2 linked regions of the Homo sapiens genome follow. The protein of the gene in region 1 interacts with the protein of each later gene in a biochemical or structural test. Each region holds a gene or a part of one and is shown on either strand. Other genes may lie near its edges.

Region 1 (3,650 bases):
GGAGCCCCATTGCAGGGCTGTCCCTGAATGGAGTGGAGGCCGGGAAAGATCCGCAGACGAACCCGAGTCACCGGTGGCTGCAGGGCTGTCCCGGGGGCCATTGAGAACGAGTTCCACCCCCACCCACCCCTGCCTGGAGTGCTTCTCTGTAAAGGGAACACCAGTCGTGGCCTGGCCCCATTTTTACAGATAAACCAACTGAGGCACACTGGAGGAGCCCCACCTGTGATTTCGGCCACATTTGGCCCTGGGAGCAGGGAGGCCAGGGGAGCAGTGGGATGTTCTTCATGGGGGCAGCAGGCGGCAGGACTGCACCTCCCGTCCCCTGGGTCTGGCCCACAGCCCCTATCCTAGCCCGGCCAGCTCTCGGCTCTCTCTCCCCTGCGTGGGGCGGGGAAGGACTTTGGAAGCTGTGGGTGATGTTGACGCCGTTGCTATGGTTACGGAGAGTGAGCGAGCCAGCGAGTTGGGGCGGGGGCGGGAGGAGAGGCTGGCTGTCGGCTCCCTGCTCTCCAAACCCCCTGCATCCCCGGAGGGCCCCCCCCCCGCCCCCGGCATGCCAGTGCCCGGCACACCGTCAGCCTGCACCTCCAGAGGGTTTGCCGACACCCTCCCCAGGAGAGGGGCTCAGACCTGGAAGGGTTCTTCTCACCCAGGGCTTCTCTCCTCCGCACTTACCGAGACATTTGGGGCCTGATCGTTTTCTGGGGAGGGGCTGTCCTGGGCACTGCAGGGGGTTATGCAGTGTCCCCAGCCTCTACGCACTCCATGGCAGGAGCACCCCCTCCCCAGTCGTGACAATCACAAATGTCCCCAGACCTTGTCAGGTGCCCCCCAGGGGGCTGCAGGGTCACCCCCAGTTGTATCCCACTCTGAAGTCCCCTGCCGCAGGCCAGCACCCAGCATCCCAGTCCCCGCGCCCCAGGACTTAGGGAACTGTGTCCGTGGTGGCGGGGGGCGGGGTGGGGGGTGGCAACAGGGATGCTAGTGATGACGGAAAGCGCTTCCTGGAGGAGGCAGCCTGAGGCCCACTGGGCTGGGTGGGGCAGGGAATGGGAGAGGAAGGGCGTGCTGGCTCTGGGGTCTGCTGTGGAGGTAGGGACTTGAGGTGGGGAGGGGGCACCTCGGCAAGGTGAATCCCTGCACTTAATCCCGAGGGTGGGGACGCTGGGGGCGGCAGTGAGGCAGGCTGGGCTTTGCAGAGGCAAATCCATTTATGGAGAAGGGATTAGGATCAGAGAGGGGTTGAGGAGGGCAGGACGAGATGTGGGAGGGATCGAGGCGTGCTGGTCTACGCACTGGGTTGGAGGGAGACTCCTCAGGACGAGGTGTGCAGAGGAGTGTCTGAGTGCCTGCCAGGTTTCTGATCCCTTGCTGAAGAGGGCCCCAGGAGGACAGGTGGGTGGGGAAACTGAGGCCCAGAGGGGGAAGCAGCCATGCCCCACTTCATTCTCTCCTCCACCCCCAGGCAGAACTATGCGCTCCTGTAGGGTTGGGATGGCAGTGCTGGTGGGCAGAGCTTGGGAGAACTGGCAGCTTATCTGGGGAGGGTCGGAGTGGGGCAGTGCCAGGCCATAGGGGGTGGGGGGTAGGGGGCCAGGGACTGCCCTCCCCCACCCACCGCCTCTCCAGCCTGCAGAGTGCAGAGAGCAGCTGGAACTGCCTGCAGGTGCCCCAGCTAGTGGGATGGGGAGGGCTCCCCCAGGGTTGTGGGGGGCGATAACCACCCCCACCCAGGCTCTCTGATAAAAGCAGCCCAGATCGGTGGGGAGGAGGCACATGATACCAGCAGGGTGAGCTGTGGGGGCGGGGGGCACCACCCTGGCTTAGACCATTTCTGGAACAGAGGTTACACAGGCACCAGGGTCCTTGAGGGGGTTGTCCCCTGCCGACCCCCAGGTACCCAGAGTCTGGTGCAGGAGGTCCTGGCCTGGGTTGGGCCTCAGGTGGGCCTCCTTTTATGTAGAAGGGAGTAGTGATAGTTTGGCGGCGGGGTGGGGAGGACAGGAGTATTCAAGATGCTGAGCAAACATTATCTGCCCTTGCTCTTGTTGGAACCAGAGCTTGATCCCCTAGGCCTGCATTCTCCTTTTCCACAGATATGCATTAAGCACCTGCTGTATACCAGGCCTGTGCTGGGCATTGCCGGGGACCCAGCCGTCAATGAAGTGCCTGCCTTCTGCTCCCACTGGAGTGCAGGGGTGCAGATATTACACCCACAAGATGCATGCGTTTTTGGAAGCCTGGTACAAAGACAGAGAAGCTGACCAAGGGTGCTTGGGGGGCACCAGGCCACTGTGAGGGGCACTGCTGCTCAGAGAAGCTCCGGGCAGGATCAGCCATCAGTTTTGACCCTAGGCCAGGGCGGAACTCAGGAAAGCCAAGCGCAGTCTGGGTGCCCAGGCGGGAGCTGCTGGACTACTGCACTAGTCCAGGAGTGAGCTGGGAGGGGCAGGGTGGGGCCTGGACGGATCCCGAAGGTGATGGGATTTGGCTGGCAGGTGGCACGTGGGGAGGTACGGGATTGACACAAGGGTGGGTATGCCTGCCTGCGTGTTTGGCGGGAACAGCAGGGGGTTTGGAAAGGGGAAGTCTACTGGAGGAGTGGGGATGGGGGAGGAAGGAAGCTTTGGCTTTGGGAAGTCAGGGGAGCTAGGGGCAGAGTGGGTGTGGGGGTTGCTATGGCCCAGTAGTATTCGAGACCCCACCCCCAGGCTGGCAGGGCCTCACCACCAGTGTTCCCCCTTTTCTGCAGCGGCTCCCAGAAGCAGCTGCCTATAGGTTCTATAGAACCTGCTCAAGGATCACCTTCAGGAGCTCCTCCCTTCCCTGGGTGGGTAAGAGGCCTCCCCAGCCCCAGCCTTTCCTGGCTCTCCTGGGATGCTTGCTTTGCGGCTGGGGCTGGTCTTCCCCACCTGTGCCCTCCCCTACAGACCCGACCCCACCTGTTAGGTGGACGTGAGTGCCCCGGCAGGCAGCCGGCCACAGCCCCCCTCCCCACCCCAAGGCCCCCCAGACAAGCTCAGGAGGTGAGGCTTCCCTGTCGGAACCAGGGCCCTTGGCACAGTCCCGCAGTCCTGTCTCCAGGCCCCTCCTGTGCCGGCTCAGACGGGGCCGGGCCAGGTTTCCAGGACTTCCTGGACTCCATTTTTCTGAGCCTGCCTGTTTCCGAGGCTGTCCTGAGCTCACCCGGGCCCAGCCTGAGTCAGAGGGTCAAGTCCACCGCGGCCCCGCCCACACTGCCCTCCCGCGTTGTCCCCACCCACCGCATCCTCAGGGCGCTGCGTCTCGGCCAGGTAGCGCGGAGCAGCTGGGTGGCTGTGCACCTGGGGGCCCGGCTGGCTAGGAGCAGCGCGCTCTGGGCCCCCACAAGTTCACCCCACCCTCCTCCCTGCGAGTGGATTGTGTGCGAGGCAGGGCCTGGCATTTCGCAGAGGCGCTTCGCCCAGCGCAGCGTGGGTGGGTAGCCCGTGCACCCCCTGCCCCGCCACCCACGTGCGCATGTGCGCGCCTCAGTCTCCAAGCGCGGGGCGGGGCTGGCAGGCACCCAGGCCGGAGAGGCGACCCTGGCCCGGGCCCCCTGGCCCCGGCGGGAGTGGGACCACGTGAGCGGGGCCGGCTGGGGCTGCGGATGTCCCCGCCGCCGCCGC
Region 2 (3,650 bases), on another chromosome or scaffold:
TAGCTACTCGGGAGGCTGAGGCAGGAGAATGGCGTGAACCCCAGGAGGCGGAGCCTGCAGTGAGCCGAGATTGCGCCACTGCACTCCAGCCTGGGCGACAGCGAGACTCCGTCTCAAAAAAAAAAAGATTACAAGTCATCTTAAATCCTCAAAAATTGGTACAGGCACTGGTACTGCCTGCCACACAGACCTGGATATCTACAATGGGAGCTCCAAACATCTTTCAAGAGAAACATAATACATTTTCTAAAAATCTGTCTTCTGCCCCAAACTGCTTCATAAAACCAAAGCAAACAATGCTACCATTTTTCTAGCTATGCTAATAGTACTAGCAGACTCAAAGGACTCACAACTGGGAAACTATGTTAAAAAACAGAAAGTCCTAATTAGCCTGACACCTTTAAAACGAAACCTTCCAGGGGGATAAGATGATTTTCTTTTGGCATTAACAGGCACTATCAAATCTAACTCATCCATTACTCACCTTATCAAAAAATAACGATTCTGTTCCACCACCATGTTTGCTGGCATCTGCCATAGAAGAATCCTTCAGATTGAGCAGTTTGGGTTTCTTCTGCAAAAGAAAGATACAAACATGTGAGATTCAACGAGTGGTTTTCTCTGAATTTTATTTTTGTCTGTATTCAATGGTTTCATCACTGAAACCACTGCTGATTAATAATTTGAAACAAATGAGAGAACTCTAACCAACTCACTCCATACCCTCTAAGATTTCAACTCATATTTTCTATTTCAGTTTGCCTATTAAGTTTCTTTCTACAACAGAGGTTCAAAGATCATTCTACCCCCAAAATATTTTCTCCAGAAATGATCATGACATTACTGTGACAAACTTTTAGAATATCCTTACTTTTTCTAGGGGCCCAAAGTAACTTCATGTAGAATCTAATGCCACTGTTTTGTTCTCCTACCAGCTGAGGGAGAAAAGGCTGTTTGTAAAAAGAGCTCACAAATTGACAGAAATCAATCTTTAACCCTGAATAATATTTCAATTAAAAATTTACTTAAAAAGCATAATTTGCTGGGCATGGTGACTCATGCCTGTAATCCCAGCACTTTGGGAGGCCAAGGTGGGCAGATCATGAGGTCAAGAGATTGAGACCATCCTGGCCAACATGGTGAAACCCCGTCTCTACTAAAAATACAAAAAAATTAGCTGGGCGTGGTAGTGTGCGCCTATGGTCCCAGCTACTCAGGAGGCTGAGACAGAAGAATCGCTTGAACCCAGGAGGTGGAGGCTGCAGTGAGCCGAGATCACGCCACTGCACTCCAGCCTGGGCAACAGAGTGAGACTCCATCTCAAAAAAAAAAAAAAAAAAAAAAAAAAAAAGGCACGCCAGCAATATCCACTCAGACTAATTTAATATTGTTCTTCTAAAGGGAACCAACAGGCCATGATATAATCCTGTCAGGCAAGAAGTTACTTTTAAAATCCACCACTTACTCTCTATGAAGAAATGCACAAACTTTGTGAGAAGTAGCACATTTACCTTGGCTATCTCAGAGTATACTTTCTTAAGAGCCGCAGCCTCTGCTTACACTGCCTATGGAGAAAGTAGGCGGAGAATTTTAAGCCCCCACTATATTCTTGCCACCTGTAGGTAATCAAGAGTGGGCGGACGTAAATCCAAGCATGGAGTGTATCTACTGAGCTGATTCTTGCTACCCATATAACTAATTCTCTTTATTGAAATGAAGAAATAGAAACCATTATTATGTTCAACTTGATTTCAAAAGATTTCAAAAGAAGAAACCATGACAAACACTAATGAAAAGGATACTTCAAAAGTGTCAGTAACACCTAGTACGTCAGACCTTGTAGTCAGTCAATCACTATTCATCAGCCACCTCTTACTATTAGAAATTCCCAAACTTTTGTCATTATTTAATTCTGCAGACATATCTGTCTCTTCTATATTACATACTGCTTTGAAATTCACTGAAGAATTAAACATTCAATACATACAACTAGCCCTCTCCCTATCATAGCTGTGTTACATCAAAGAAGGGAGCAAGCTAAGTTTTCTGCAGGCAGACCATCAGTGTTAACTATAACAAAAAACATCATGTAATGGATTACTAAGAGGAGTTTAAGACTTCCCTCTGCTACAGCCCAAAGGTCCTGCCTTGGAGATTAAGATGATACACATAAGATCTGGTAACCCAACAAAGAACTTTGAGCAGGACAGGGTTCTAGACCAGAGATCTCAAAAAACACATGCACTCTACTCACAAGAGGACCTCAGAGACCACTTATTTCTGAAATAATTCTCAAGCTCAAGAATGTTCTTTCTTAACACAAGGCAGATTTAAAGCATCAAAGAAGAAGGGGCCAGGCGCGGTGGCTCACGCCTGTAATTCCAGCACTTTGGGAGGCCGAGGTGGGTGGATCACCTGAGGTCAGGAGTTCAAGACCAGCCTGGCCAACATGGCGAAACCCCATCTCTACTAAAAATGCAAAAATTAGCTGGGCGTGGTGGCACACGCCTGTAGTCCCAGTTACTCAGGAGGCTGCGGCAGGATAATTGCTTGAACCCGGGAGGCAGAGGTTGTAGTGAGCTGAGATCACACCACTGCACTCCAGCCTGGGCGACAGAGCAAGACTCCATCTCAAAAAAAAAAGAAGGGAAAAAAATTTCAAGTATTGGAAATTCTTAGTAGCAACCAAAACATTAAAGAAATGACAGCTCATTGCAAAGGAGAGATAATAAAGAACTCAGAAAAGTACAGTAATCCAAGCAATCAATGTTATTCTAATACTCTTTTGCAAAGCCAGATAAACTCTGCACTGAGTTTCTGTGACACAATACTAACTTCCTCCAAATATCTAGGACCCAACCGTTAACACACTTAAGAACACATGACTGCCGGGCACAGGTAATCCCAGCACTTTGGGAGGCCGAGGCGGGCAGATCATGAGGTCAGGAGATCGAGACCATCCTGGCTAACACGGTGAAACCCCGTCTCCACTAAAAAAAAAAAAAAATCAGCCCGGTATGGTGGCATGCGCCTGTAGTCCCAGCTACTCGGGAGGGCGAGACAGGAGAATCGCTTGAACCCGGGAGGCAGAGGTTGCAGTGAGCCGAGATCGTGCCACTGCACTCCAGCTTGGGCGACAGAGCGAGACTCGGTCTCAAAAAAACAAAAAAAAACAACAACAACAAAACACATGACCACCTCTAGAGTACCTCTCCATTAGAAATACTTGTGAGTGTCAAAATGAGCAGCTGCTGCCCATTCTCACCTTAACTGGAGGGGTGGTTCCTGTAGGATGTCTGCGGATCTGGCAGCCATTCTGGCTGGGCCTCTGCGGCTTGTTGTTCAGTTGGGGCTTCTTGACAGTGCCTCCATGATCATTTCTCACAGAATCAACCTTCTCAGCAGTTGTTTTGCTTAAAAGCTGATTAAGACACATGAATGAGATTAATGCTCTTATCAAAGCAAACAAATATCATCTAGGAAAAGTCCCCTTCTGAGCACAGTTTTCCAACTCATCTAAGATAATAATAGTAAATAGTGTAATTCTTATTAAAAAAACATACCACGGAGCTGTTGGCATCTGGTAGGAATTGTCCAAACTCTGACAACAAATCTTCCTGGTTTTTAAAGAGACGAGCAACCTGGGCATA

What was found. The genes of interacting proteins can lie anywhere in the genome.
Region 2: the proteins of KLF16 (region 1) and SIN3A form a complex in vitro, tested with the Homo sapiens proteins (2 studies listed by BioGRID).

What each region holds. Positions count from the first base shown.
Region 1 is NC_000019.10:1,857,018-1,860,667, reverse strand, and holds part of KLF16 (Krueppel-like factor 16), read left to right. Parts: intron 1-3,650. UniProt on the Homo sapiens protein: Transcription factor that binds GC and GT boxes and displaces Sp1 and Sp3 from these sequences. Modulates dopaminergic transmission in the brain.
Region 2 is NC_000015.10:75,406,571-75,410,220, forward strand, and holds part of SIN3A (paired amphipathic helix protein Sin3a), read right to left. Parts: coding exon 3,564-3,650; intron 3,422-3,563; coding exon 3,266-3,421; intron 575-3,265; coding exon 485-574; intron 1-484. UniProt on the Homo sapiens protein: Acts as a transcriptional repressor. Corepressor for REST. Interacts with MXI1 to repress MYC responsive genes and antagonize MYC oncogenic activities. Also interacts with MXD1-MAX heterodimers to repress transcription by tethering SIN3A to DNA.